Linked DNA regions of Homo sapiens. The protein of the gene in region 1 interacts with the protein of each later gene in a pairwise test. Each region holds a gene or a part of one and is shown on either strand. Other genes may lie near its edges. The genes, in order: THRSP, WT1, LSP1 and BCAR3.

What was found.
Region 2: the proteins of THRSP (region 1) and WT1 interact in a two-hybrid assay, tested with the Homo sapiens proteins (one large-scale study listed by BioGRID and IntAct).
Region 3: the proteins of THRSP (region 1) and LSP1 interact in a two-hybrid assay, tested with the Homo sapiens proteins (one large-scale study listed by BioGRID and IntAct).
Region 4: the proteins of THRSP (region 1) and BCAR3 interact in a two-hybrid assay, tested with the Homo sapiens proteins (one large-scale study listed by BioGRID and IntAct).

The regions. Positions count from the first base shown.
Region 1 is NC_000011.10:78,059,865-78,068,650, reverse strand, and holds THRSP (thyroid hormone-inducible hepatic protein), read right to left. Parts: upstream 4,791-8,786; 5' UTR 4,770-4,790; coding exon 4,329-4,769; 3' UTR 4,310-4,328; intron 993-4,309; 3' UTR 300-992; downstream 1-299. UniProt on the Homo sapiens protein: Plays a role in the regulation of lipogenesis, especially in lactating mammary gland. Important for the biosynthesis of triglycerides with medium-length fatty acid chains.
Region 2 is NC_000011.10:32,388,884-32,395,740, forward strand, and holds part of WT1 (Wilms tumor protein), read right to left. Parts: intron 3,873-6,857; coding exon 3,783-3,872; intron 3,182-3,782; coding exon 3,089-3,181; intron 297-3,088; coding exon 175-296; 3' UTR 1-174. UniProt on the Homo sapiens protein: Transcription factor that plays an important role in cellular development and cell survival. Recognizes and binds to the DNA sequence 5'-GCG(T/G)GGGCG-3'. Regulates the expression of numerous target genes, including EPO.
Region 3 is NC_000011.10:1,853,799-1,861,800, reverse strand, and holds part of LSP1 (lymphocyte-specific protein 1), read right to left. Parts: intron 2,338-8,002; exon of another isoform or gene 2,265-2,337; intron 1-2,264. UniProt on the Homo sapiens protein: May play a role in mediating neutrophil activation and chemotaxis.
Region 4 is NC_000001.11:93,672,629-93,680,630, forward strand, and holds part of BCAR3 (breast cancer anti-estrogen resistance protein 3), read right to left. Parts: intron 7,622-8,002; exon of another isoform or gene 7,601-7,621; coding exon of another isoform or gene 7,576-7,600; intron 2,314-7,575; coding exon of another isoform or gene 2,303-2,313; coding exon 1,986-2,302; intron 1-1,985. UniProt on the Homo sapiens protein: Acts as an adapter protein downstream of several growth factor receptors to promote cell proliferation, migration, and redistribution of actin fibers.

The DNA.
Region 1 (8,786 bases):
ACGACGCCCAGCTGATTTTTGTGTTTTTAGTAGAGACGGGGTTTCACCATGTTGGCCAAGATGGTCTCAATCTCTTGACCTTGTGATCCACCTGCCTTGGCCTTCCAAAGTGTTGGAATTACAGGCGTGAGCCACCGCGCCTGGTCTATATGTGATTTCAAATTAGGTGGCCTTATAAATATAAGCAGATGGTTTCTGGGCAAAATCAAATGATTTCTGTCTCTATTTTCTTGAGTACCAATTGTAAAAACTGAAATTAGGTTGAGGAAAGTGCTTTAGAAATAATAAAGATGTACAAATACAAGGCTTTGGATTTTTTATTAGTTCTGCAATAAATAATAGGTTTATAGTTCACCTGTTGTTGATCTCATCAGTGGTCGCCAAGTAAGAGGGTGAATCACTCATCCCAAGAGACTCTGCTACCTCTTAGCTCTGGAGGGTAAAAAGCAAGGGCCAGAGCAAATACATTGGGGAGAGGGGGAGAAAAAAAAAATCAGGCTATTTTAATAGCCCTCACATGCCAAGTGCTTTTGATTCATCATGTTTAGTTTTCATAAGCTTGTGAGGTAGATAATATTATCCCCATTTTATAGATGAGGGAATTTAGGCTCCAATGGGTTAAATAACTTGTACAAGTACACATACTGAATGACTGCCATGAGGAGGGATGTGAATTTTGGTCACGTGCCAACACCTACACTCTTCCTACCATACCACACTGGACAGGTAATTGTCTAGTCCCTCCTGAACCACTGGTCACCTCCCCAAGCTGTTAAGAGGAGCGAGGGGAGCAGTGAATAGCAACAGACATTCTAAAGGTGAGCCAGTGACTGGAATCCAGGAATTGGTGCTCAGGAGGTAGAGAAGCATCCCGGAGAACTGAGCCGCCTTCACTTCTGGCTGCAGGTCTAGGCCTTTCTGCTCTCATCATTGGCTAGTGAACTGCTCCGCCGACCTCATCAAAGAGTCTGTCTTCTATCATGTGAAGGGATCTGTGGAGTGAAGAAATTTTTAAAAGGCCAAGTCAGTATCAATTCAAACAACCAAGATACTGTCACATGCCCATTGAAGCAGGAAGAACAATGCTGATGTTGCTGTTGGAAAACTGGCAGTGCCTCAGCACTGTAAGGAGAATCCTAGGTTGTCAGAGCTGGAATAACTCATTTGATTTCTCTGCTATATTTTACTAACAGGGAAACAGATACAGAAAGGTAAGATAAGTTGTCTAGGGCCGGGCGTGGTGGCTCACGCCTGTAATCCCAGCACTTTGGGAGGCCAAGGTGGGTGGATCATTTGAGGTCAGGAGTTCGAGATCAGCCTGGCCAACATGGTGAAACCCTGTCTCTACTAAAAGTACAAAAATTAGCCAGGCATGGTGGCGTGAGCCTGTAATCCCAGCTACTCGGGAGGCTGAGGCAGGAGACTTGCTTGAATCTGGGAGGCAGAGGTTGTAGTGAGCCAAGGTGGCGCCACTGCACTCCAGCCTGGGTGACAAGAGCAAGACTCCATCTCAAAAAAAAAAAAAAGGTTGGGTGCGGTGGCTCACGCCTGTAATCCCAGCACTTTGGGAAGCCGAGCGGGGAGGATCACAAGGTCAGGAGATTGAGACCATCTTGGCCAACATGGTGAAACCCCATCTCTACTAAAAATACAAAAAATTAGCTGGGTGTAGTGGCGTGCACCTGTAGTCCCAACTACTCGGGTGGCTGAGGCAGGAGAATTGCTTGAATCGGGAGGTGGAGGTTGCAGTGAGCTGAGATCGCGCCACTGCACTCCAGCCTGGCAATAGGGTGAGACTCCATCTCAAAAAAAAAGTTGTCTAGGATAATACAGAAGTCAATGGAAGAGCCAGAACAAGAGCCCAGATTTTTAACTGTTGCTATACCATATTGCCTCTGAATGAAAATCAGGTTAGGGTGTGTTGAAACGTTATGGCGTAGAGTTGCTGCTCTGGCCTTTGAAGCAACTGAGTGAGTCAGAGTGTGGTTTCTACCCACTCTGCCATGCCCAGTTCCCACTTTGAGCCCACTCTGCAAAAGTCTAAGGCTCTAAGGAATACCACTGTAGAGGAAAAGAATTAGACTAATTAGGCCAGGGTTCACATCTTGGCTGTTATTTACTGAGTAAACTTGGACTCATTTTACTTCTCAGGCCTCCAGTTTTCTCATCTGCAAAAGGGAATGATAGGCTGGGCGCGGTGGCTCATGCCTGTAATCCCAGCACTTCGGGAGGCCGAGGCAGGTGGATCACGAGGTCAGGAGTTCAAGACCAGCCTGGCCAACATGGTGAAACCCGGTCTCTACTAAAGATTTTAAAAAAATTAGCTGGGTGTGGTGGCACACGCCTGTAATCCCAGCTACTTTGGAAGCTGAGGAAAATCTCTTGAACCTGGGAGGTGGAGGTGGCAGTGAGCTGAGATTGCACATTGCACTCCAACCTGGGGGACAGGGTGAGACTCCGTCTCAAAATTTAAAAAGGTGGGGGGGGATGATAATTCCATTAGATAATGGATATGCAAAGTGATCTTAAAACTATTCAAATGCCAGTTGTTAGTTTTACAACCACTGTTATTATTCAGTGAAGAAGCTGAAACCCAGAGAAATGAATTAGCTTGCCCAAGGCCCCACAGCTCATTAGTGATAGAATCAGAACGTGAACCCAGAGCTGTTGACACAGCCCCATCTAATTCAAGAAGAACCTCTGTGAGGCAACTCAGGGAGCCTCAACGGGAGAGGGAAGAAGGGTTGAGGTTGACAGTTTGGGTTTGAAGCGGGAGAAGGAAAAATGGCTGAGAAAATGCCTGGAGCAGAGCTCTCCATAGGCTCTGTGTTTGGGGGTCCCATGTTTATTCCGCATAATTACAGAGCAGCCTTCACACAGATTATGAAGATAACACAAAATGGCAGACAGTGGGTACGATGGAAAGAACACTCAGCTCAAAGTTGAGGCCAGTCTTACTTTTGTCTCCTTACTGTGTGACTTTGGGTGAGTCACTTCACCTCTCTGGCTTCAATTTCCATACTAGTAAACTGGGGATGAGAATCTTTTCCTACATAGCTGCATCAGGTGGTTTTGAGATTGCAATGGACGTGGATGTTGTTTACAACTAATGAGACCAGTTTGTGGGAGCAGGGCTGGCAGGTGGCACAGAATCAAAACTGGCAGGTGCTGTGGTCCAATTTCTATTAATACTAGTCTTTATCCATGAGTGAACTAGTGGTGACCATGCTAGGGCCCCTTCCCACCTCCTACCCTCTGCCACCACCTGCTTGTCTAGCTTGCTGCTCATCCACACTCACCACCCCAGCCCCTCTGTGCATAGACATGTAGGCTTAGACTGGAACACATATTCATATGTACATACAACAGGGCTTCCCAACAGGCATGTCTGCATACTCCAGTTTGCCTGGAATGGATTAGAGTGCCATGACTGGTCCCTCGGCTTCCCGTTTGGTGGGTTCCAACCTGGGATGGTCAGAGTACCCCCAGCCTGTTGTAGCAGTACTGCAAGCAGCCTCACCTATGTATCCCCATGTGCCATATAATAATTTTCCATGTTCTGTGACTTGAAAAAATGTTGGGAAACACTGTCACACAAATGGAATTCACAATGTTCACTTAAATCAATGTGCATGCCTTAGGTAAGTTTTTTTTTTTTTTTTGAGATGGAGTCTCCCTCTGTCACCTAGGCTGGAGTGCAGTGGCACAATCTCAGCTCACTGCAACCTCTGCCTCCCAGGTTCATGCCATTCTCCTGCCTCAGCCTCCCGAGTAGCTGGGACTACAGGCACCCACCACCACGCCCAGCTAATTTTTTGTATTTTTAGTAGAGATTGGGTTTCACCATGTTAGCCAGGATGGTCTCAATCTCCTGGCCTCATGATCCGCCCGCCTCGGCCTCCCAAAGTGCTTTGGTGTGAGCCACCGCGCCTGGCCCCTCTTCAATTAAATTCTTAACAAAGTCACTGATGAGAACACACTCATTCAATTCACACATTTACAAGCATTCACATACTAATAAATGCACACATGCACAAACACATATATGTGCATATGAGATATGCCCTCACAGGCCACTTTTCCCTCTGTTTCCATATCACTTCATTGCAATTGCCAATTTGAGGTCAGAAGGATAGTAACACAGGCCTAGTCTTAGGCCCTCCTAGGTTGTGGTCCCAATACCCTGACCCAAGAGTGGCTCTGTCTGAAAGTCAGGCTGTTCCTCTCCCAGTGGGTTGCACCACTGCCCCCTCTCCTCTCCTGGAATGTCCCTTTGTAGACTCACACCCACCAGCATGGCCACCATTACCTTCCCTAGTGTCCAAGGTCTACCAAACTTGTCCCGTCATTTCCTGGTATTTCCTTGTCACCTCCTGGGCTTTCTCGGTGAGGTGCATGAGGATGTGATGGAGGCTGGAGAAGTGCAGGTGGAACTGGGCTTCCAGGTCCAGCTCTCCTGAGGCACTCTCGTCCTCGACTTCCTCTGTCTCTGCGGTTCCATTCTCTTCGCTGCCTGCCACCTTGGCCTGCCACTCCTCCCGCGGCAGCAGCCCATGGTCCACATCCACACAGATGGCCTTGAGCATGGTGAAGTAGGTGTAGAGATCAGGGGCCTCAGCCTGGGCCTGGCCCCCAGGCCCACTCAGCTGCACGTCCCGCAGAAGGCTGGGGATCATCACCACCTGCTCCATGTTGTGCACCTCGGCTGCATACCGGTCCATGACGGTCAGCAGGCAGTTCTTGGGGTAACGCTTGGTTAGCACCTGCATGGTTGCTTCCTCTGACACAATGAGACCAGCAGACTGCCCCCGCACTATTTCTAGGCTCTCGGCAGATTGACAGGATGCCAATGCCCAGCTGTTGGGTCAACACAGCCCTGTTTTGGGCCAATCCCAGGGCTCAGGCCCCAGCATCTGTATCAGGTGATCCATCTGCCCAGAGACAGATCTGCCAGCCTTCTACTTGTCATCCCAGCTCTGCATGACTGCCCCAGCAAGAACCCGACTCTTCCTCTGTCAGCTTGCTGAGCCAGTTGGAAGGAAGCTTTTCCCTTTGGCAACTGGTATACTGGACTTCAGGGCAATAAATAATTCTTTCAGGTCACTGGAGACCAAGCTGTCTCTTTGCTGCCTGCTTAGGGCAGCCCTCCAAAGCACAGTTCACTCCTTCAACCTGGGGTGACTCCATTGTGAAATGGAGAGGATTTGAAGTGAAACAGCTTGATGTGGGGCAAGGAACACTGAGGTTGGAGTCAGAAGCCCAGTACTGCAATTTCCTAGCTGAGTTTTTTTTTGTTTGTTTTTTGCTGGCTAACATTTATTGAGCACCTACTGCACATCAGGGTCTGCTGAGCTTTTTCGTGAGTGATCTCATTTAATCTTCACCACAACCCTTGTAAATGTTTTATTTATTTAATTTTTGTAGAGATGGTCTTGCTATGTTGCCCAGTCTGGTTTTGAACTTCTGGACTCAAGCAATCCTCCCACCTCAGCCTCCCAAAGTGCTGGAATTGCAGGTGTGAACCACCAGTATTCCTGTTTTGCCAGTGAGGAAATTTAGGTGCAGACAGCTAAAGTAACTTGCTCAAGGTCCCACTGGGGCTGGGATTCCAGCCCAGGACCACCTCTACCCACCTCCAGGCAGTGCTGTGGACTGACATGAGGTTACATAGTCATACAAGTTAACCAGATCCATATCCTCTGTAAATTTGAGGTGGTGTGAGGATTGAATAAGACAAACTAATAAAAATGCTTTGTATCAGTCCAGACAAGCGGCTGGGATCAAAAGAGGAAAAAAAATGCTTTGTAAACCACAAAGCCCAATCCTCAGATGTATTATCTATGCAGATTCTAGATTATTGCTAAGGCTTCTCCCAAATCTAACCAGTCATTCCATAAGCTACAATGCTTCCACTTTATTACTGACCTTTCCTTGGACCAGCAGTCTTGGAAGATAATAATCTTTTGCGTGGTCATATTGTCATAGTTTACAAACTGCATTTGCTATATATTTTTTATTAGATATTTAAGAAAATGGCCGGGCGCAGTGGCTCACGCCTGTAATCCCAGCACTTTGGGAAGCCCAGGCGGGTGGATCACGAGGTCAGGAGATCGAGACCATCTTGGCTAACGTGGTGAAACCCTGTCTCTACTAAAAATACAAAAAATAAGCCGGGCGTGGTGGTGGGCGCCTGCAGTCCCGGCTACTCGGGAGGCTGAGGCAGTAGAATGGCGTGAACTCAGAAGGTGGAGCTTGCAGTGAGCCGAGATGATGCTGCACCACTGCACTCCAGCCTGGGCAACATAGCGAGACTCCGCCTCAAAAAAAAAAAAAGAAAAAGAAAAGAAAAGAAAATGAAGGCCTGGGGAAAGGCCCAAAGTTGCACAACAAGTTAGTGGCAGAGTCAAGTGGAGAATAAGACATTCTGAATTCTGGCTCAGGTACCTGCCTCCTCCACTGCCTCTGGTGAAATCTGCTGAATGATGATACCTCCCACGCCTGCAGGAGAGGAGAGAGGAGGAGGGAGCACAGGGAGGGGACGTGGGGCTGAACAGGGCCTCTGTGTTGTCTCACCTAAGCCACCCTCACCTCCACCCTAGGGCAGGAGCCCACTCTGCACCCTCCCAACTGACAATCATTCACTCCTCTGCTCCCTCCCACTACAGCCAGAGCTATGAAAAAGCTTATCTTTAGACTGAACAAAATTCCGCCTCCCAGCCCGGCATGGTGGCTCATGCCTGTAATCCCAGTACTTTGGAAGGCTGAGGCAGGAGGATCATTTGAACCCAGTAGTTTGAGACCAGCATGGGCAACATATGAGACCCTATCTCTACAAAAAATTAATTTTAAAAAATCAGCTGGGTGTGATGGCACATATCTGAGGTCTCAGCTACTCAAGTGGCTGAGGTGGGAGGATTGCTTGAGCCCGGGAGGTCAAGGCTGCAGTGAACTGTGATGGCACCACTGCACTCTGGCCTGGGTGACACAGCAAGACCCTGTCTCGAAAAAAAAAGAAAAAGAAAAAAATATTCTACTTCCCTATAACCCCTCCCCTTTAAATTGTAATATTTACCCCACCCAGAGTTACTGGCCTTAACTATGCTTATGTTGGCACAGCAGAGTGGTGTGCCAACTCAGTTTCCACAGGGGCCCTGAGACAGAAAAACATAAGTATCCCAAGATAAAACTGAGACAAAACTGAGACTCAGAAAGGGAGAGGTACTTGCCCAAGGTCTCATAGCTCGGACATGACAGGAGTAGGCCTGCCCTAGTTCCATCAGACCTGAGAGGAAAGCAGTGATCTTCCCTCTTGTCAAGTCCCCTTGGCAGGCTGGCCATGCATAGCCACAGATGACCTGAAGTCACCCTGTGTTGACAGTTGGCCTTGCTTCTCCAGGGCAGAACAGGCAGCCAAATCCAGGTCTGGGCCAGCTGCAGAGGGCAAAGCTTCCACCTTAACCCTCTGTGTACTGCAAGTGGTGGAGGGAAACAGAGAGCACCAGCCTCCCTGAGCCTCGACATCCTCATATGTTGTAATAATGATAAGGGCAAACAATAACTGAAGACATATTATTCTAAGCTAAGTTATATATGCAAAGTTCTTTTTTTTTAACCTTGAGCTTTTTTTTTTTTTTTTTTTTTTTTTTGAGACAGGGTGTCACTCTGTCGCTCAGGCTGGAGTGCAGTGGCATGATCTTGGCTCATTGCAACCTCCGTCTCCTGGGTTTAAGTTAGTCTCCTGCCTCAGCCTCCCGAGTAGCTGGGGCTACAGGTGCCCTCCACCACACCTGGATAATTTTTGTATTTTTAGTGGAGATGGGCTTTCACCATGATGGCCAGTGCTGGGATTACAGGTGTGAGCCACCGCGCCCGGCAATATACAAAGTTCTTAGAGCAGAACAACAATTGTATGTGGTAGGTAGACCCCATTTACAGATGAGGAAACTGAGACCTGAGACGGTAAAGCAATAAGCCAAGGAACACACATTATTCCTTCCTTGGCAAAGAGGAGTTGAAATGTGTCCTGACTCTTCCCTACGGGTGTGATGGGGTGAGAGATGATATTTATGAAATGCCTAGGAGACTGCGGGACTCAATAAGCAGACACTGAGCCAGGCGCGGTGGCTCACGCCTGTAATCCCAAGCACTTTAGGAGGCCGAGGTGGGTGGATCACCTGATGTCAGGAGTTCGACACCAGCTGGCCAACATGGTGAAACCCTGTTTCTACTAAAAATACAAAAAATTAGCCTGGCGTGGTGGTGGGTGCCTGTAATCCCAGCTACTCGGGAGGCTGAGCAGGAGAATTGCTTGAGCCCAGGAGGTGGAGGTTGCAGTGAGCCTAGATCGCACTACTGCACTCCCGCCTGGGCAACAGAGCAAGATTCCATCTCAACAACAACAACAACAACAAAAAATAAAATAAAATAATAAAATAAGCAGGCACTGCCTTCTTTCTAGCAGATTCTGCCTTCTGACTCTGCTCCCTGCATTCCTCATTTATTTCTCCATGCCTGGACTTGCCACTCTACATTTCATCACTGCAAATGCTCAGTAACTATTGGCTGTATGATGACCATTAGATTTACTAGTTTTTTTTTTTTTTGAGACAGGGTCTGGCTCTGTCACCCAGGCTGGAGTGCAGTGGCATGATTATGGCTCACTGCAATCTCCACTTTCTGGGCCCACGCAATCCTCCCACCTCAACCTCCCAGATAACTGTGACCACAAATAGCCATCACATCTGGCCAGGTTTTTTTTGTTTTTTTTGAGACGGAGTCTCACCTGT
Region 2 (6,857 bases), about 46 Mb from region 1:
ACTCTTCCAGGCACACCTGGTAGTTTCCAGAAGCACCGGTATCTTGTCTTGGAAGTTGGATGAAGAAGATCAACTGAAGTTTCCTTTTTAGTGAGGAGGAGTGGAGAGTCAGACTTGAAAGCAGTTCACACACTGTGCTGCCTGGGACACTGAACGGTCCCCGAGGGAGACCCCTCAAAGCGCCAGCTGGAGTTTGGTCATGTTTCTCTGATGCATGTTGTGATGGCGGACTAATTCATCTGACCGGGCAAACTTTTTCTGACAACTTGGCCACCGACAGCTGAAGGGCTTTTCACCTGTTGACACAATTGCCAGTCAGAGACACTTGCAACAAAGAGACAGGCACAAGTTCAACTATCAAGGCCCGAGTGAAGTCATCACAAGGCACCCACTCTGAATTTCCCATCATTCTGTCCCTGAGCTAACCAACTGAGCTCATTTCCCAGGCAGCCTTGAAACAGCAGCACCTCTTGGGGCTTTAAGGATCGAAATATTGTAAAAAGTTATATTCTTAGGTCAGAAAACTTGGAAAGTGGGAGATAAAGAATGAGTCAAGTTGGGGGAAATGTCTGAGCAATTCATAATTAAGGGGAAAAACGTTTGTTTCAGTCTCTGCTGATAGAATGTTTTGTGAACTGTGTAAATTTCTCCCCCTTGTTGAGTAAGTTGGGAACTGAGATGAACTGGGCTGCAGAAGCCTCTGGGTCATCTACCCTGGGTATTACTGAGTGATCACTGTCCAGGGATCTCAGCTGTGACTGAAGCTTTTAACACTTCTATCTGTGTAGATACCCTGGATGGGCTGGATACTTTAAAATAAATCACTGATACCAGTTTACATGTTATGTGTTGTTTTTTTTTTTCTCTTAAAGTGTTACTGAGAGCATAATCCTGTTATATGGAAGATTCTAGTTGGGGCGTGGTTCTTAGATTTTTAATAAGCTTGCCAAAAGATTGAGGCTTCTCCACCCAAAGAGCCCTCAGACATTCTTTCCAAGCCTCATTCTCATTAGGGAGAATAACTACCATTTATTTGATGCTTAACATATGCCAAGCCTTGTGCTGGGCTTCACACACGCACACACACAACCTCATGTACTCCTTACAACTGCCCGTAGGGGAAGCGTTATTATCCCCACTCTACAGATGAGGTAGGACATCTATTGAGGGCAGATCCAGGCAGAACTCAAATCTCCAGGTCTGTCGAATTCCAGAGCCCGTGCTCTTCCCTGTATCACACCTCCCAGGCCTAGCCATGATGGAAAAGCAGCTGCAGCTCCATCTTAAGGAAGAATGCACAGAAGCTAAACCCTGTGCCACCTGACGGATCTTCTCAGATACTGCTGGTCCCACTTGGCCTTCTCTGAGAACTACTGGTTTGGACAAGCACTGAGAAATGTCCCAGGAGGGCTGGTGTCCCAGGGTCAGACTGGAGGCCAATCAAATGTGGTATTAAACAGTCTGCTGGCAAAACAGGTCATGTCACACTTACTTGGGGAGTGTGACAGCCGTGTCAAAGGGACTATAACACTTTGCCACCGAATTATGAGCTCAGGACTAAGTTAAAGAAGCATCAAAGGCACCTGAGGAAGGGAAGCAAGATCCCATCCTGCCAACCATGGGCCACAGGTGCCTTGGCTCTGTTTTTAAATGCAGCCAATTTGGGCGAAGAATCTGGGGCTGCTCAGGGGTTTGTGATGTCATGTTTTCCTTCACTCGCTGTTCCTCTGCTCTTCCTGGCCTGGCTCTCACTCTCCAACCCCACCTCCAGCAGTGCTGTTAAGGGCTGGCTCCTAATGGACTAATCCCAACCCTGTCTCTTGTCATCTTCATTCCTCTCAGTCTCTCAGTGGTGTTCAGCTTTGCTGACTTTGATTCTCTACTTGACTCTCCATGCTCCCTGGACTGCAGAGTAAATATCTGCCCCTTCTCCAATAAAGAAGCAAGTGGGACAAGGTGGGCTGGAAGCAGACAGAACTGGATTTGCTCCTTACTAGCTTTGTGACTTTAGATAAGCCATTGAATTATTATTGCCTCAGTCTCCTCATCTGTAAGATGGGAATAAAACATGCCTACCTCATTTTTTTTTGTTTGTTTTGTTTTGTTTTGTTTTGAGACAGGGTCTTGCTCTGTTGCTTGGGTTGGAGTACAGTGGTGGGATCACAGCTCACTGCAGCCTCAGCCTCCCAAGCAAGGTCTAGTGAGCGTCCTACCTCAGCCTCCCCCAAATAGCTGGGACTATAGGTCCACACCACCATGCCCAGCTAGTTTTTGTATTTTTTGTAGAGACAGGGTTTTGCCATGTTGCCCAGGCTAGTCTTGAACTCCTGGGCTCAAGTGATCCACCCACCTCATCCCAAATAGCTGGGATTACAGGCATGAGCCACCACAGCCGGTCCTACCTTACTCTACTTACAAGCATGTTGTGAAGATAGACTTAGATAAGCTAAATATTAACGCTCTTTCCAAAGGTAGAAAATATGCAACAAAGGTGGTGCTATTTTTATTATGAATCACACCAGCCTTGCAGAAAGCAAAAACCTTCAGCAGCCAGTAAATGAATGCCCTATTCTCCTCTCTGTACTAGTATGAAGGAAATAATATCCACACACTGATACTGGTCCAGCAGAAACCAAGACCGCTCCTGGTGCATTAACTTTTAACAGAGCAAGGACTCAGTTCTCTGAAAATAGTGCCATTAAACATGTGCTCTCAGAAGAATAAATATTTGGCTTGCTAGAATTTCTGCTGCTTTTCTGTAAAGTTGATTATCGTATCAAAGAGAGTAACAAAATGTGTGATGCAACAAACTGGAAACAGTAGGGACCTGGCTTATCTCTTCATTTTCATTCTGCACACTCCAGCCATTCTTTTCCCATCTTTCTCCTTCTCTGTATTTCCACCCTCCCCTTCTTTAAAAAATGTTATTATTTATTATTTAAAGATAGCCACGCACTATTCCTTCTCTCAACTGAGTCTAAACCTTAGAACTTTTACACTAGTCTTTTCCAATCCCTCTCATCACAATTTCATTCCACAATAGTTTAAAAAAATAATGAAAAATAAATGTGAAGAAAAGTTTACGCACTTGTTTTACCTGTATGAGTCCTGGTGTGGGTCTTCAGGTGGTCGGACCGGGAGAACTTTCGCTGACAAGTTTTACACTGGAATGGTTTCACACCTAAATGGACAGAGAAGGTCTAGCCTCGGCCCTAACAATGTGGGCACAGTGAGGCCCACAAGGCTGACTTCCGGCAGCTGGAGGAGCCCAGCATTTCCTGCCATGCCTGCAATGTCTGCATCTGCCTCACCCTTAGATTTCCCCAGTCCCCCAGGCCCAACAAGAATCACTGATTCTGCACAGTAATCTTCAAGGACCTGCTTCTGTCTTGGGAACAACCATTCCTTAACCACAGAGGTCCAGCTTCTCACCAGCTGGAAGATCTCAGCTGTGTCAGAGACAGGAAAAGTGAATCACACGCTACAAATTGGATTCCGCTCTCCATCACCCTCATTCTTTGCTGATGCTCAGTGTATCATCAGCCCACTGCTAGTGGGATCTCACTGTTCTGTGGTTTGCAGGGGAAATGTGGGGTGTTTCCTTTTCTTTCTTTTTCTTTATTTAAGAGGAGGAACATCTCCAGAGATTATGGGGGGAAAATACTGGAAAAACTAAACACATGGCTGACTCTCTCATTCATATTCAACAACAAAGAGAATCATGAAATCAACCCTAGCCCAAGGGAACACAGCTGCCAGCAATGAGAAGTGAACCTACAAACCTGTATGTCTCCTTTGGTGTCTTTTGAGCTGGTCTGAACGAGAAAACCTTCGTTCACAGTCCTTGAAGTCACACTGGTATGGTTTCTCACCTTGGGGAAGACACATATTCTATTTGAAAATGATACTGGAAAAGGGGATCTCATTAAAGGCAACCTCTCCTACTAGGACTGAACAGATCCCAAAATGCCTAAGGCACTTCGCTGGAGCTTGTTAGGGTAGGATGATCCCCAACTTGCAAGTTACAAATGAATGGGAGCTCAGGGGCCAGAGGATTCTGCCCCAAGGCTCACATCTAGCTCTGCCATTAAAAAAAAAAAAAAAGCCCTGGGTGAGGTGTGGTTTCTTTATTGTAAAATGGGTCCAATAATCCAACAACTTTAAAGGATTTATGACCTTCACATAAAGGGCTCAGCCCAGAGCCTGGCATAGAAGGCGTGCTCAAAAACTATTAGCAAATAAAAAACAAAATCTTTAACTCCCAGGCAGAATCTGAGGCAGAATTCTGGGATGCATGTGCCTTGAGGTCAACCTCATGAAATAAGAGTTTTATGTTTTAGGGCCCAAAGATCTGGTGTTCTTTGCTACTGACTCCTTGTTCTTGCATCAAGCAAATATGACTCCATGGTTGTGAGACCCTCAAAACACACCAAAAGCACTGAGAAAGTTTTTGGTGTGCTTTATCCAAGAGAAGTCAGTAGTGGGATTACCCAACCTCCTGTCTCAGAATGGAGAAGCCTCACCCCTGTCCTCACTAGAGAAAGTTCAGCCAAATACTGGGACCTGAGCCCCAAGAGAAGTGAGCAACCCCAGGCCTTCCCACCTTCTTAGGAGAATCCTGAGTCACAGGCATCTGGGATGGAAACAAGCCATTCTAGAATCAGTCAGGTCTTTCTGTTGCAAAGGCAGCCCCCTGTTACCTTTCCAATCTCAAAGCCTGGGCTATTTCCCTCATGAATCTCTATTCCCCACTATGCCAGAGCTCACATCCTGAAGTCCTCCTTGCACTCTGCTCACACTAAATGTCCCCCATCCCTATCTCCACATCGAAAAGTCTCCTGGGTGTCTCCTTCTTCTGCAATGCCTGCTTGGAAACTGCATGGGCCAATTTCCCTTCCTTCCCTCATTACGACATTTATTCCAGGCTGTCTAATGTGGTGAGCTGTGTCTGGGTCTACAATTCTACAATTCTTCAATGGGTTGGAAAATCCTAAGGGCTGGAGCCTTTTTATTTTTATTTTTTCTCAGAGACAGAGTCTCTCTCTGTTGCCCAGACTAAAGCGCAGTGGTGTGAGCCTAGCTCACTGCAGCCTCGAAACCGTGGGCACAAGCAATCCTCCTACCTCAGCCTCCTGAGTAGCTGGGACTACAGGCATACACCAGCACACTTGGCTAAATTTTTAAAAATATTTTTTTTAGAGACAGGGTCTCACTATATTGCCCAGGCTGGTCTTGAACCCCTTAAGCAATCCTCCCGCCTACGCCTCCCAACATACTGGGATTACAGGTGTGAGCCACTGCACCTGGCCCCTTTCTTTGTATTTGTATCCAGGTTGGTGCCTTATGTTTCACCTCTGTGAGCTGGAGAAGATGTTACCCCTATTGAGTCTGATTTCCTTCCCCTGCCTTTGAGCTTCTGCTCATCTATCACTTTCTCTGCCCAAACTACCAGCCTCCACTGGCTAACCCAAGCTGTTCTTCCTCTGAGAAACTTTCTCGGATGACCTTAGTTCAAACTGATACCCTCCAAACCCCTCGGTACCTCCTGTCTCTGATTTAGTACATGATCATGTACTCTCTCAGTCACTTTTCATTTCTTTATATCCTAGCTCCCAAACAAACCAGGAACTCTTTGAGAAGGAGGATTATAACCTGCAGTTAAAAAGAAGGAGTTTGAGTCCTCTTTCTGCTATATCCTATACTCTTCATAAATGTTTTGTGAGTGAGGATTAAATGAAATATACATGTAGAGAGCCTGACACCCAAAAAGTACTTAATATAACAGTCTGTACTGTTGTTATAAATAAATAAGAAAATATTGCTCTCTTTCAAGGGGGACTGTAGGATTGTTAAATACCAACCTGCCCTCATCTTCTGCAAGGAAGAGTTTCTTAAAGGCTCCAGTGGGTCTGGGGTTTTGGCTGTCTTGTTCACTGCCTTCCCTTCACACAGTTGTCTAACCCTCACTGCATTCTAAGTGCTTCTCTCTCACTAAAAGTTTCTACAACCATATTGCCTTCATTTATTCCCTTGCATTTTTCAGGCAGGACTTTACTTTCTCGTTTTCCTTATAACCTTGACAGTCACTTTTCAAATGATCCCATTTGGGGAAATGTGTAAAAACATAACATGCCACTGGTCCCCTCCTTTTTAGCCTCAAAGTCTGTGGCCCACTGAGTGCAAACTCAGATTGACACCAGAATTGCATCCTCTGGACACAGTGAATTAGCAAATTTCAATGGTCCAAGGAAATCTGAATGCAGCTCACTTTTTTCTCCAGCTTCCCAAGAGCAAAATCAGCAGTAATAACACAGTTGCAACAGTGATCCTATAATAATGCTGTTCTTCGATTGTGGAAAAGGCAGCAGTAGCTCCTCTGTAGGAAAACCTGGGTTTTACCACACTCCCACACTCCCACCTAGTGCCCACAAGGCCCAGAGTAAACGTTCTGTGACATGGCTGTCCACATTCAAGGTGGCCAACACCAAACAATGCCAGTTCTCTGTTTCCCAGAAGCAGCCTCTCTGACCTGGGGGAAAATCCAGTTTCATTGGCGTATCTTCAAAGATAAAAAATCATCATCTCTCTCTCTCCTTTTTTTTTTTTTTGGCAGAGTCTTGCTCTGTCGCCCAGGCTGGAGTACAGTGGTAAGATCTCAGCTCACTGCAACCTCTGCCTCCTAGGTTCAAGCAATTCTCCTGCCCCAGCCTCCCAAGTACAGGTGCGTGCCACCACACCCGGCTCATTTTTGTATTTTTAGTAGAGACGGGGTTTCACCTTGTTGGCCAGGCTGGTCTCCAACTCCTGACCTTGGGTGATCCACCCACTTCGGCCTCCCAAAGTGCTGGGATTACAGG
Region 3 (8,002 bases), about 76 Mb from region 1:
ATCCATCTATCCATCCACCCATCCATCCATCCACCCATCCACTCATCCACTCATCCACCAATCCATCCATCCATCCATCCATCCATCCATCCATCCATCCATCCACCCACCCATCCACCCATCCACCCATCTATCCATCCATCCATCCATTCACTTATCCATCTATTCACCTATCCATCCATCCATTTACCCATCCATTCATCCATCCATCCAACCATTCATCTATTTATCTATCCATTATCCATCTATCCATCCATTCATCCATGCATCTATCCATCCACCCATCCATCCATCCACCCATCTATCCATCCATCCATTCATTCATCCATCTGTCTATCCATCTGTCTCTCCATCCTTCCATATATTTATTCAATAAATCTGTACTGAATTCAGACACTTTGAAGGTGCTGGGGATTCAGCATTAACAAAGTCCCTGCTCTTATGATGATCATGTTTCAAGTGTGGGAACAAACACATAAATAAATAAAGGTCAGATGATGGAAAATATGACAGAAAATATAAATCAGGGTAAAGGCATATGGAGTTCTGGAGGGGATTGATATTTTACGTATGATAGCCTCATGGAAATAAGTAATTCTTTCCTTGGGTCTTTATATATGAAAGCCTCATGGAAAGAAGTAATTCTTTTCTTATTTGAAAAGAGATGAGAGAAATGGGAGGAAGTGTTCCTGGAAGAGAGTGCAAAATTCCTGATTTAGTAGTGTCTACTCACACATCCGTCTTTCTAATAGTTTACTCAGCACGGATTCAATTGTCTATTGATTCATTATCTATCTATCTTTCTACTCATCTCTTGTTATATCCACCCACGTATCCATCTATTCATCTATTATCCATATCCATCCATATGTCTACTTCTCCTGACATCCTTCTATTAATCTTTCCAATCATTTATATGTCCATATTCCAGCCATCCAATCATCCACCCATACATAATTCCATCTCATGTGTCCTTCCATCAATACATTCATTTACCCATTTATACACCCATTCATCCATCATCCATTCATCCATAAATCCACTCATCTTTTGTTTTGGTACATTTGCTCATTTAGCTGTTGGGCTGATGATCAGCCAATATGCACAGGTACAACACAGTTCAATATAGGAATATATATAATCAGCACCCATTCCAGTAGATTCATATTTGTACCACATGCTTTGTTAAATATTCTAAATATCACATCTGCATTTATCTATCCACCCATCCATTCGTTCTTTCATCCAAACATCCATATATACATACAGATGTTCTTCTGTCCATCCATCTATTTTTTGTTCATCTGCTCATTTGTTCATCCATTCATCAATTACTAAATAATTCTTTCTATTTATGCATGAGTTATACTCTATTTATACATGAGTCCATCCAACCCATTCATTCATCCACCCCATCCATCTGCCCATCCATTCACCCACCTGTCCATCGATCCATGCACCTATCCATCCACTCATCCCTCCATCCATCCACCCATCCATCCATCATTCAATTATCCATCCATCCATCATTCAATTATCCATCCATCCATCCATCCATTTGTTCCTACTTCCTATCATTCTTCATTCATCTTTCCATTCATTCATACTGTTCTCCATAATTGATTCTTTTCTAATCTTTATTTTTCCTTTCTTATGCAACTAAGACATGGTTCATAAGCTCATGGCCCAAGGATAAAGCAGACCACCATGGCCCAGGAGGCTGAACACCTCAATAGAGCCTAAGCAGGGGCTACAGGGGCAGGGATCTGTCTTCATATTGACACATTCTCATCATCCCCGACACATACCTGCGAATGTATGTTCACAGAGCAGCATCCCAGTGAAAGGTGCTTTGAGCACTGAGAGAGCCCATGGGGACAGGGGAGGTCAGGGTGGTGGCCTCATTGGCTCCCGAGTGATCCCTGGTGGATAAATGTCTGTGATTTAAAGAGGAGGCAGCCTCCAAATGCTTGCAGCATGCATCTGTTCAGTGTGGCCCTCTGTTCAAGCAGGCACTGCTGACAGCAGGAGAATGGGCCAGAGCCACGGGTAGGGGGCAGGGTGGTGGGTCATGGGTGCTGGGGGCTGGGGGCTGGGGGCTGGGGGCTGGAGGCTGGGTGGTGAATGGTGGGTGCTGGGTGGTGGTGATGAAGCTCAGATTTTGGTTGGGACTGGGTCTAAGAGAAAGGCTAAAGGATTATTTCTAGATTCATCTGGAACGAATTGGCTAGATCCTTCTATCCCAAGTCCCATTGCTTTTCTGAGGGGAGGTACCTGGGACAGGAGGAGGAGGCAGCCTTGCCTCAGAAACCAAACTGTCAAAAGTGTAGGTTCCACTCAGGAAGGAGGAGCACAGGCACTTTTGAGATGAGGGGGACGTGCTCTTCTCTGGAGCAGAAAGAAGCAGTAGGTGAGGTCCCACCTGCCAGGGATGGAGCAGGAGAGTGACCCCTGCATAACCTTGAATCCTCATCTGCAGCCCATGAGCAGCTGGAGACTGGGGACTCTGGGAAGGGTACTGGGCTTAGAAGCCACCCCCTGCCCCAGTGGACAGAGTATCCTGGACACCTCAGCCACTCTCCCTGAGCGTGTGGTGTGTGTAGAGGCCCCTGCGTCTATACCACTGCTCCCAGGGAAACTGGGAACCCAGGAAGTATGCTGGAACCCTTCATGCTGTGACCTACAAATGCCCCACCAGAGCGGCCCTGCTCCAAGCACTGAGGTCAGGGGCCCATGTGCCTGCCTCCTCCTGCCGGGGGATACAGGGGACTCAGAGGCCCTCCCTGCCACAAACTCCCTTCCCCGACAACCCACAAGCAGCTTGGAGGCAGTTAGCAGATGGAGTTAGGATAGGACTTGCCTGGCCCCAAGAAAGGGCCAGGGGCTTTCCTCCTGCCACCCCTGCTCAGCATCTCCCTCCTCCCTTGTCTGCCTGTGTCTGGCACTGGTGGGGCCGTGCTGGGTGGGACACGGCTAGGAGGCCTGGCTTTCTCAATCCCCTAATCTCCTATCAACCCCACCCCCATGCAGCCCCTCCAACCTCTTTTCAGGTCCCTAGATGTTGGGGAGGGGATGGGGGCTGGGCCGGCTGTAGAGAGTCTAACCCTGGGGAAGGGGCCCTGCTGGGCTGCCCCCTGGCCGAGCCTCTCCAGCCCGCTCGCTTCCCTCTCTTCTAAGTATCAATACAGCCTCGTCCACAGCCAGGGCCTGGTTCTGTCTGCCTCAGCGCATGTGGAAAGCCCTCTTCGATTGCCTTATGGTCCTGGGCTGCCATCTCCCAGAAGGTCTTTAGTGGCCCCCAAAAAGATGCTGAGGGCTGGGATTTGGGCGGGGCTGGGCTGGAGGGAAGTGGAGGACCTTGCTGGTCCTGCAGCGCCCGGTCCCAGTTCCGCTTTTCGGGACGGTCCCTTTAAGTGCTTGCTGAGCTTGGGCCATGAGCAGTGCTCTGGTGCTCTTGGGAGCCTTTGAGTCCAGAGTGGCTGGTGTGTGGTGTGGGGTCAGAGAGACCCCGGGAAGGGCAGCCCAGCCCAGCTCCCTCCTGGTGCCCGCAGGTCTTGTGGGCCCTCAGCACCCGAACCCCACAGGGGCAAGGACTCAGGCCCCTCCCCAGGCAGGGAGCAGCCCTTGGACAATGCACTTGGCCCCTGTGAGCCTCGGTTTCCGTCTGTGAAATGGGAGGCTCCAGGGACCTGCCTCACAGCTCCGGGGGATGAAACAAGAGCCTTGGTTTAAAAAGCTTGGCAAAGGCAGGGCGCGGTGGTTCATGCTTGTAATCCCAGGACTTTGGGAGGCTGGGGCGGGTGGATCACCTGAGGTCAGGAGTTCAAGACCAGCCTGGCCAACATGGTGAAAGCCTCTTCTCTACTAAAAATACAAAAATTAGCCGGGGGCAGTGGCAGGTGCCTGTAATCCCAGCTACTCAGGAGGCTGAGGTGGGAGAATCTCTTGAACCTGGAGGGCGGAGGTTCCAGTGAGCCGAGATTGTGTCACTGCACTACAGTCTGGGCAACAGAGCGAGACTCTGTCTCAAATAAATAAATAAATAGCTTGGCAAAGACTGGCATGGAGTGAACGCTTGGTCTGAGTGGCTACATTCTGAGTGTGCAGATGGGGAAACTGAGGCTTCAGAGGGGTGCGGCTTACTCATCCAGAAAGCACTCCGAGGGCCTATAGCAGCCGAAGCAAGGCCAGCCCTGGGGCCTTGCAGCCCATCCCCCTCCCGCCGCCCCAGCAGTGGGATCTCAGGGGCTGGGACTGCAAGGCAGAGCTCACGCCCCCACCCCTCACCAGGCTGAGGACTCAGAGCGGGAGACCACTGGGCCCTTTCCACTGCCAACACCCTCCTCTTCTCTAGGGCTCACCCATCCCTCTGGCACGTTCTCAGGGAACTGAGGTGGAGACAGGCTGGCCCGTAGGGTAGCGGAGCAGAGGCCCACCATCCTGCCACCCCAGGGTGTCACCGGCCAGGGCCTGTCCCAGCTGGACCCCAGACCCTCCTGGCACTGCCCTTGTGTGGCTCCAGGATTGTTTTAGGAGACACGAGGGAACCAGGAAGGGGGCGCAGGAAGAAAGGATTCTGGCTTCCAGAATCAGCGGGGGTGGGGCCTGTGATGCTCCCACTTGTGCGACCAGCCCAGCTGGGTGTCGGTGGACAGCAGCGCCTGCCAGCCCACGAGGAAGAAGACATCCTTCTGCTTCCCTGGGAAACTTCCAGATGCCTCAGACCCCTTACCCAGGGCAGGAGGAAGGGGACCTCCCCAGGGATCCTGGGTCCAGACATCAGGTCTTGACCACAGGAAGGTGTAGGGAGGGAGCCCCAGGGCTTAGCCCTCAATCCTAACCTCCCTCAGCAGCCCCTGTGGGGCTAGGGCTGGGGCTGAGGTGGCTTCCCCAACTGTCCCCAGCTCTGCCCTCTTTCCTGAGCAGTCGTGGGCACCGCTGGGGGCTCTCAGGGCCACCTGCCCCAGCGTGGAGCATTGCACATCCTCCAGGTGGTGCCTGGCCTTGGCTCGGAGGGCAGGTGGGCGGGAGGGCTGCCCAAGGGCCTGGCTGCCTGGGGGGTTCCATCCCATGGGCTCCTGCTGCTCAGATGAAGACTTCCAGGGGGCTGCCGGGGGCCTCCAGCCCCTTCCTCCTTCAGAATCTGGAGCTCTGAGGGTCTCCAGGGACAGATGGCCAGAAGGAACCCTGCCAGAGCAGCCCCTCAGGTCATCCCTGCCCTTCCCAACTCAGCTCAGCACACAGAGAAGCGAGGGAGGCTCCGATGGGCCAGGCGGGGCTCCAGGACTGGCCCTGTCCATGGCAGGTGCTGCCAGAGCCCTGGGCAGCGGCCTCCCACCGCGGGCTGGGCAGGCCTTTGAAGGTCTGCAGAGGAGCAGGGCGGTTGGGTGATGCTAGGAGGGGCATGTGCCAGGGCTCTGACACCTTCCAAAACTGGGAAGAGCTGGGAAAGCTGGTGGGATGGGAAGTGAGTTCAACCAGGCCAGGAGGGCCTGGCATGGCCACCCAGGGGCATGGAGTTTGCCTGTAGCTGGTGAATGGTTCTTTCCGTGGGAGACACGGCCTGGTCGCTCATGGGGAACAGACTGGGGGTAGGGTCATCCTGATGGGGGCCTGGGCTACACAGGGGCAGACTGAGAGGGCAGCCAGGGTGTCTGTGGGACAGGGTGGCGGCAGGCAGACTTGCCTTCTAGGTGTGGACATGGGGTGGGCACGCCTGGGCGGGTGGGCACCCCCGGGCAGCTGGGCCAAGGACAGGCACTGCAGCCAAAAATGCAGTGTGACCCCAGGGAGGGTACACCCCTGCAGAGCTGGGCTCCAACATCTGGATATGTCGAACCCAAGGTCTGAGAGGGCAACCTGACCCTCCCCAGCTGTGGACCAGGACGCCCCGTCCTCATCGCCTCAAGGCCTCCAAGGCCAGATAGTTCCTCAGTGTGGGGAGAGCCTTGCTCTTGGGGGCTATAGAGGGCAGGCATCCCCCAGCGTCACCAGAGAGTCCCCCCAGAGCCACAAGGCAGCTCTGTGAAATCCTCGTCCCTGCCCCCAAGGGACAAGGACAAGCTAGTGACTGTCTGCTGGACAGCGGGGCGAGACAGGAGTGCCCCCGAGTGGAGGAACCGCAGTCCAGCCTGGCTGGTAGCCGAAGCGGAGCCTGGACCCCGCCCAGGGTCAGGGGACCTTCTTTGGCCTGAGGCCTCGTGGGAGAGGACAGTCCTGTCCTGGGGGCATCTGAGAGACCACATCATGGAGGGGTGGTTCTGAGGAATCTGGCCCCGTCCCGGGCAGTCTGAGGGGAGGGGCCACATCATGCGACAGTCTGAGGGGCTGGACCCACTTGTCCAGCTGGAGGGGCTTGGCCTGCCCTGGACCTAGTGTTGAGGGCATGTCCTGAGACCGTCACAGGCTGGCGTACCTGGCACTCTGTGACATGCACGGGGGGCTGTCTTGTCCACTGCTCCAGCCCCAGCTGAGCCTGCCCAGCCTGGGCCTTCCTGGGGACTCCCGTGTGGGGGCTTCCCAGGCCATACATCCCTGCCTGGGTGCAGGGGACTTCTGTCCCATCCTAGACAGGAAACTCCCCGGTTCCCTTAGTCACCTTGTGAAATGAGAAGCCTACCCCACTGGGGCTCTCAGTTTCATTCTGAAAGGTCAGGCTTGGCTGCGCACCCCATGCAATTCGCGGGGGCAGGGGATGTCCAAGGAGGGGGTCCAGGCTTTGCAGAGCCCAGGAGAACCGCCGCTCTCCAGCTGGAGCGCCTGACAGCCCCGGCACAGGTGCAGCCCTGGCCTCCCAGGATCTGCACCAAGATGCCCCAGGATCATCTGTGCCTTGGCCATGCCCGCTCCAACCCCCCCTCCCCGCTCCTGGCCCGGGGGATCCAGGGCATTTGAGACAGCTGGGAGGGGGTGGCCAAGGATGAGGCCAAGGAGGAAGGCGGGGGTGCCCCAGCCCAGAGGCTCATGTCCTGCCCTTCTATGGGCATGAGGTGACCAGGAGCAGCACCTAGTCCAGGGCTGGGGGTGGTGCTGACAGGAGGGCCCGTTTTGCAGCTGGGACACAGCTGTTGTGCACCCAGAAGCCTGTCTCCCTGCACACGGCCTGGGCAGGGCATCCTCCCACCTCTCCCTGGGGACAGGCACGGACGTCCCGACCCAGCCCTCAGCCAGCCCCGGCCTCTGCTTAGCCTCCACTCCACTCACGGCACTCGGGGTCCCTTCAGTGGCCCCCCGCACCTGTACCCAAGTGGGATTTGGCAGCAAGAAGTCAGAGATGCAGACCCCTCACACATACCAGACCCACAGCAATGTGACGGCCACCAAGGACACAGACACAGGACAGTGACTGCAGCCACCAACAGCACAGGAGCTTTGTGTGAAGGCCGGGAGGTGGTCCCTGCACCGCCCCGGGTCGGGTAGACCGGGACCCTCTGCTGTCAGCACCAAGGCAGAGACTGGTAGCAGCCCTGGCTGCAGTTTTGGGGTATGTGAGCGTCACCCTGGGCCTCCTCTCAGGTCCGTCCTGTGTGGCTGCGGGCATCACACTCTTTCTGCAACCTGGGCCCCAGCGCCTTCCCTTCCGCACACCAGGCCACAGCCCCCGCTGACCTGCTCCTAGGCCGGCCTCTATCCCCAGCACCGGATCCCCATCCCCTGACCATTAGCACGTCGCCCCTCTGCCCCTCAAAGCCCTACCTGTCCCTGCACCGCACGCCCTGAGCCCTCCCATCTCTTCTGGGACCTGCACCGGGGGCAACTCGGGTTCCCCTGGCGAGGCTCAGCTGTGATGCCTGGATGCCTGCTGGCCGGCAGCTCCCCTCTGCCAGGGAGCCCAGTTACTAAGCCGCTAGCCCTCTCCACCCACCCCAGCACAGGGCTGGATGCCCATTGGTACCACAGAGTACAGCTGCCCGCTAGGAGGCCTTTGGCAGCGGGGTTTTTCTGCCCAGCTCTGGCAGTCCTACACACAACCTCTGCCATGCCCCCTCATGTCCCCACTCCA
Region 4 (8,002 bases), on another chromosome or scaffold:
GTGCACAGGTATGCACCTCCATGTTCACCCATTCCAGCAGTGGCTGCCTGCCAACTTTCTGAGCTGGGAGGTCACCCACCTAGATTTTGTGGAGCCGGTCCAGGGCCTTCTAACCCCCAGGATACCCCAAGGAATGTCCTAATCTGGTGACAGAAGCAGTTCAGGGCTCTCTAGTGGTTTCTATGGAGATTATCTGGGCCTCCACTTATTTTCTTCTTGTACTACTGCAATTATGGAACTGAGAATAATTCTGAACTCTTGTTCGCCTAGCTTTGCACCAACACCAACACTGTTCTCCTCTCAATGTGCTACACTCCAGCCACAGGCCATTCCAGTTCCTTTTGGGGTTTTCAAACATGCCAAACTTGCTCCCATCTCCAGTTCTCTGCACTTGACTTCCCCATGCCTGCAACAGCCTGGAAGGCCCATGGTTGCTTTCCCTCATTATACAAATATGAGCTTAAATATCATCTCAGAAACCTGTTCATCCTACCAAAAACGTACCACCTCCAATAAATCTCCAGCATATCACTCCATTTCCTCTATAGCATTTGGTATAATCTGCAGTTGTCTTATTTATTTGTATATACTACCTAATGCGCTCACTAGAATGTAAACTCTGGGAAGATATTGCTTCAGATGCTCCACTGCTACCCTGTTAGTCCACATATTTCCACCACCCTATAAAAGGGCAAGAACAGATTGCTCAATAATTTGGCTGCTAGAATGTTTTCAATGCTGGACCAGCCCTTCATTTAAGATAATCAGGACTGAGCAGAATTTTCCTGGTAAGCCCTGGGGCTTATGAAATCAACATACTCTAATATAGGTGCTCCATATATAAATATTGAACAAATAAATGAGCTAGGATCCAAGTGGCTTTGCGACAAGCTTGGACAAAAAGAGAGATAACAAAAGAAACAGTCCCATTCTTTACCAGATAGCATCACAGGCTGCTGATCTTCCCCAACAGGAAAAGGAGTGCAGTTTCCAAACTAGCTCTAACAGGCAGAAACCAATCACAGCCAGGCCCATTACAAACCCAGAGAAAAAGCATTTACAACCATAAGGCTCATTTACCCAGATCTCTGTCACAGAGAGGGAAAAATCAATTCTTGTCCTAAAGTATTCTGAAGCTGACCTGCTGGTGCATCCACATAAAATTTTATTTCAGCATGCTGACAACTAAATATAAGGAGATATGGGGTCTAATTTATAGACATCCTGGCATCTCTATAGAAGTGGATGGACATAGTTCAGAATCTGATGCTATGATAAAAAGAAAATACTTGGGCTTTCTTTTAAGGGACTTAAGAGAGGAAGCTGGATTTTAAAATATCCTCAAATGTTACATAATGTTAAGAAGTGGTTTTTATTTAGGTGTTATAGTTTTTTTTACATTGTGGTTATACAGTTTTTAAAATAAGAGTCCTTATCTTTGAAAGGAACATACCAAAATATTTCCAGATGAAATAATATGAAATCTGAGATTTGCTTCAAAATAATACCAAAGGAGGGAAGTAGGTGGGAGTACAGACAAAACGGGACTGGCCTTGAGCTGGTAACTGTTGGAGCCGGCTGACAGGTGCATGGGAGTTAATTATTCGCTCAACTTTGTGTATGTTTGATGTTTTTCCTAATAAAAACTTCGGAGTCTCACTCTGTTGCCCAGGCTGGAGTGCAGTGGAGCGATCTTGGCTTACTGCAACCTCTGCCTCCCGGATTCAAGTGATTCTCCTGCCTTAGCCTCCTGAGTAGCTGGGATTACAGGCACATGCCACCATGCCCAGCTAATTTTTGTATTTTTAGTATAGACAGGGTTTCACCATGTTGGTCTGGTCTCAAACTCCTAACCTCATGATCCACCCATCTCAGCCTCCCAAAGTGCTGGGATTACAGGTGTGAGCCACCACGCCCGGCCATAAAAACCTTTTAAAAAGCTGTTTAAGACAAATCATCTTCACTAGTGAAATTACAGAAGTTACCTGAAGGTGAAGGTTTCGCCGTGCCGGTCCTGCCATGGGCTCTCCTGGATGCCATCCTGGGTCACAGGCGAGTTCTGCCGTGGGGATTTGGAGTGGGGGAGGGTGCCCATGTGACTGAAGTCATCACAGGACCTTATGGGAGGAGGACCTTTTTTCTTCCGTGGAAGGGTGCCATGTATAGACACATCTTGATAGGCATCTGGGCGATGCTCAGCGAGAGGGGACCTGCTGCTCAGAAGGTCCATGGATGAGGCCAGGGGGAACTGGTGATTCACCGGCATGTTTCTGGGAAGGCTTGCAAATTTTCCTGCAGCCATAATTCTCAACTCTAAGGGGGAAAGAAAAGAGTGAAGGTATAAATCTATGAGAGTCACAAGAACTGACTTCCTACTTACAAAAGGAAATGGAAATATGCCACATAAAATGAAATATTCACAGACCATTAACAGATCAACATTTAATGGCATCACTAGTGGAGTCTAATAAGAATGGGAAGTTTACTTATCTTCCTCCTGAAATGATCCTACATAGGAATTGTCCTGGGTTGGCAGCAAAACCAAGAGGGCAAACACTTTCAGAGTTGTTAGAGGCATATAAGCCATGCACAACCAGCAAAAAAAGATGATTAAGAGAGGACTCATAGTTGCAGTAATAAATGTACGAAAGAAAATATTATAAACTGTTAGATAATTAGCTCACATTATTTTCACTGCCCTGTAAATGATAAGAACAGGCAGGGATTATTGAAATTCTTTAGCTGCTAGAATTGTCTTCAGTGCCAGACCAGTCCTCAGTTGTGCTACACAGGATGGGACAGAATTTTTCTGGCAAAGACCCAGTGTTTATAAATAAATCAATGCACTCTAATTAGTGAACACGGGCTAGGGTCAGGGTCAGGAGGTGGGCCATTCTGCCATACACCAGCAGGCTCAGCTGCAGAGGAAAGCCACTGGGGTGGGGGCTGCATGTACATGGCCCCCACAGAGGGGTCAGGATCTGCCTGCCACCAGCAGGGTTAGGTAATGCCCATGGGTGCCTGTACAGTCGGGGAAGAAGAGACAGGAGAAGGGAAGAAGAAAAGAAAAAAAATGGTGGGGGGCAAAGGAAGCATGGAAAGGGAAAGGAGAATGGCACGTCAGGCTGTGTGCAGCAAGTAGCCCCGACACTCTCTCCTATCTAGGACCATGAGTAGAAGCATTTACCCTGAGCAGAGTCAGTGCCTCCAGCTCCAAAGCAAACTATGGTTTTGGCCTAAGACAAATTATATAATACATTTTTAAGGCCAACACACAGAGGAAAAGAAATAGGAGACAAAAAAAAAAAAAAAAAAAAAAAAAGGCTGGCCCCTGGAGATAGAGGCTCCAGGATCTGTCTTATACTAGTCATGATATCAGACTCTGGTCTGGACAGCACTGCAGGGTGGCCAAGCCCAACATACAGCCCTTCCCACGGGCTGGTGAGGAGAGCTGCCCCTTAGTCTGTTCTCCAACCCAGCAGCCCTCTTTCCTCACAAACCACCCTTTCCACTGCATTACTCAGGGAAGAGCTTTGCATGAAAATCCTCACTTAATAGCACTACTGCAGAGTCAGTTCTACAAAGGAACTGCGGACTTGGGACGTGGTTTGAAGACAACCAAGAAGAATGCAACCCTCCACAAGCTGATAGAAGTGGAGCCGAGACAATGACATTAGAGTGTGTAAAGAAAACGCATGTGTTTGTATGTGTGTGTACAACAAAACACACACGTTCCACTGCTTCCACATGAGATAGGGGAAAGTACAGAAGTCCTGGGGGTGAGATGGAAGGAGCATCTTTACTGAAGGTGTACAATCTTAACTCTGTCCTCGGTTCATTGTCAAATCCAGTAATTCTGGGGGCTGCCTGCTCCACGTCCAACTGGGACCACACAGAAGGTCTGCTCACAGTGGGTGCAGAACAATAGGACAGAGTCCTGTGCAGCCCCTCCCAGCTCTGGCCAGTACCTGGCACACTGTCAGCACTTGCTCAATGCTAACCATCCTTATTAGAAAGGAAACCAAACTCCCTAGCCCCACCGCCTGAACACAAGTGACGTAAACCGACTAGGATTCTTCCACCCTACACACACACATACACACCACAGTTGTGACTTCTCACAGACAGGACTGGGTCATTTCAAAGAACCTCGTGGGGAGGCCTGCAGCACCCTACAGAACTTCTTCATGTGCATAGGGCCACACTGTTGATCAAATCTATTTCCAATAGCATGATGGGCAAAAGTCACCCTAGCACCACTGCCTTTGGCAGCCTGTTTCCTCTCTGCTTCCCCAAGATCTACTTAGACTTCAAGATTGTCCTAAAGTGTTCTAAAATGTCCTTCAAGTTACCAACACCTCAATTTATTCTCCAATAACAAGGGATGTTAATACTTCCCCTTCTTACCTTCAATTCAACAAACATTTAAGTGCCTATTTCATACAAGACACCTGGAGAAACAAAGATGCCTAAGGCCCAATACCTGACTATGAACTCTAAGAGAGAATAATTCATAGAGGCCCTTATGCTGAAAGGAACAATTAATTTTGACAAAAGGACTTGAGAAGGCTCAGAGAGGGCAACAATAGAGACAAAGCATTTTGAAAAGTTAACATGTGGGGAAAAGCCTCCCGGGAGGATGGCAGATGCATAAAGGCATGGAAGTGACCCCACAGGCTCAGGACATTCCCAGTTGTGTGCTGTGGCTCGAGTGAAGCCGAGAAGCATTTCCCAGAAGCAACTTAGGTTAGCATCAGACCATGGAGTCTTGAAGGCCCTGCCAAGGTGTCTGGACTTGACTGGAAGTGCTAGGGAAGATCTGGAAGGGAAGGACCGAACCCAGTCTGTACCCAAGTAGGTGACTCTGGTTGTTCTGGAGGGGAGAGAAAAAGGAGGCAGGGAGGTTACTGAGGCTGATGGTGAAACCCATGGAGGAACAATGAAGAATTCTGACCTGGGGCAGCAGCTGGGTAAAGGGAGAGAAAGGAGAGAGTGATGAGACATCAGAGCTTGAGGCATCTGGCTGGAAGGAAGGAGCCTACAGCCACAGAAGGTGGTGCGATGCTGTAACATGCCAACTAGTTTCAGAAGGGGACCCACCCCTGCAGGAACCAAGCACAGCACTGGAGCTGCTGCATGTGAGGTATCAGCAAACAATTTGGTCTAAGAGGAGGTTAGATACTGGTATGCACAATTAGAAGTGAGGGCAGATGGAGATTTTTAGGAATCATCAACATAAAGGCAATATTTAAACCAGAGAGTAGATCCCTTAACTTGTTATTATCAGATGTGATAACAGCTGTGAAGTACCTCTTAAACTGTCAGGAATCATACAATACCCATGAATTATACCCCTGCTCTCTCTTACCATGGCTTCTTCAAGCCTATAAGGACCAAAGCAAGGAATGAGTTCTACTATAAAAACGTAAACCATTGGTTCTCAACCTGGCTACACATAAGAATCCTCTGGGAAGCTTTTAAAATCCTGATGCCCAAGCCTCAGCCCAGAACAATAAAATGAGAATCTCTGTGGGCGGGACATTAGCATCAGTCTCCAGTATTGACCAATGTGAAGCCAGGATTGAGAACCACTGGATTAGTGAGTCTTTTTGGTACACAGCAATTGAGTCATAATTGTTTACCTGCAAAACAGAATTCAATGATGATGAAGGAGTATCATTCAATCAATAGAAACATTGATTCTTCAATGCATACATTCATGGAGGGTCTCCTTTATGGCTGGCACTATGCTAGGTGTTGGGGACAGCATTAAACAAGACAGAAGTGGTCTGTCCTCATGAAGCTAATAATACTCTGGAGGAAGCAGACAATAAATTATGACCATAAGTACTGGTAATTCCCAGTCCATTTTTCTAGATAAGGGAAATAAATGTTCATTTGATATATATTCTCTGAGGGCTTATGGTGTACCAAGGCTAAGGATATAATAAATTAGACAAGCTCCTGCTCTCATGGAGGAATCCAACCTATACAAACAAGAAAATGAGTTAACATCCAAGTTGTAAGCACGCTAAGGAATATAAACAGGATGAACTGACAAAGGATGACTGTTGCGGGTGGAGAGCTACTTTACATTAGGGTGGACTGGGAAGGCCTCTCTGAAAAGGTAACAATGACATGAGACCTGAAAAAAGGCAAGGGAAGGAGCCAGTCAAAAAAAGGTCTGAAGGGGGTTCCAGGCAAGGGATCTGGCAAATGCAAAGGTCTTGCCATAGGAACAAGCGGTTGGAATGACAGCTGATGGAGACTAAACCCAAGTCTCCAGCCTCTGGCTCCCATGTTTTCTCCACTTGGAAATATTTCTGTCTCAATGTCCCTAGTCATTATATACTTCTTATGTACCATTTGATTTTTTAAAAATAAAATGGTATGACTCAGAACCTAGGCTTTGGAGGCAGATATCTACAGGTTCAAATCTCTACTCTGCCACTGACTTACCAGCTGTATGGCCTGGGACAAGTTACTCAACCTGACGGTTTCTCATTTTAAAAAATGACTTAACAGCTATTTCATAAGATTGTTGTAAAGATTAAAAGTGATTGTGTATACAAAGTTCTTGAAATACTGCAAACACTTAGTAAATAGCAGGTCCCCTCTAAGCAGGACAGGGGCTGCTCTTATCTATCTTGTCAGATAAGAGTCACTGTATCTCTGTTATACTGAGGGTTCACAAAGGAAGTAACTCTGAGAGTTCACAAATGAAGACTGCAACTGGGAAGGATGGGGAGGGAAACGTTTTAACCTAGAACAATAGATGCAAAGACACCAAGCCAAGTAGGACATGGACACGGACACAGACACAGACACACGTACAGGCAAACCAAGTGAGCCTACATGCAGTCTTTAGAAAAAAGCCCAGGTGAGACTCTGGCCATCTGACTTCTCTCTACTGTGCAGGAAAACAAACACAATGTCCTGACTCAGTCTAATGCCAGATTTTGAAATATTATACAAAAGTCAAAGACTCTGCATCTTGATATGAAAATCTGAGACTCATGTGAACATCAGGAACAAGAGCGAGGCTGACAAACTTTACCACATGTGCTGCCTTCCTGGGCCTGGTCAGTCGCTGGGCTTTGAAATGTTTGTGAACTGAGGCCCAACTCACTTGCTTTACAATGATGTCTCAAAGAAACTGATGATCTTGCAAGCTGAGGCAGAGATAAGCAGCCCACTTGTTTGGATTTTACTCTTTTATTTCTGAAACGGGATATTTTCAAGTTTAACTCATAATGGTTATCTGATGTGAGCTTTAAGAACTTTTCATTATATTTTAAACTCTGGAAATGTAACCGTCTCGGCTGCCCCATGACAGAGAATTTACAACTTGGATCTGTAGTTTTATAACTTCTCTGGAGAGTCAGATGGAGAGAGGAGATGAAACAACCACACATATTCAATTGGCTTATCCACTTAAAATGAAGTTTTGCTTGGGTTTAGGAATTAAGAGTATCTCTTTATTTTTGAAGTAAACTTATGAAGTCTAGCCAAATGATTCAAGTATGAATAATTCCTCCATGGATTGTATTTCAAGCAACACAGTACAGGATTTACCCGATAAGGTTCTTAAGATTAGCATCCATTTGACAAGCAGTTCTGCCTATATGAACAGGAGATTTAGACCTTGGTTAGTCATCCTGGAAATGCCAGCCTTCTCAGCAGCACTTTAGAGAAAGTTGGAGTTGGAGTGGTGTGGGATCCCCTGGCTTGGCAAGGTCTTTACGTTATCCTCAATACCCCCTGGCACGCCCGCAGACAAGCGCTTTGCCTGTGGGCTTCCCATTGTTACCCGGGTAGCCCCTTCCCACTTGGACCTGTGTTGAGCTGGGCCCCACCCCCAGCACTGAGGCCTCTCCCAGCCTCCAGGATCTCAACTCAGTCCCAGGCAACACAAGGGAGGCTATCAGCTCCCAAAATGACCTTCCCTCGGCCAGCGTACTTTCCTTGGGGAGGTCTGTGTAGCCTTGGGAGATAAAGTCAA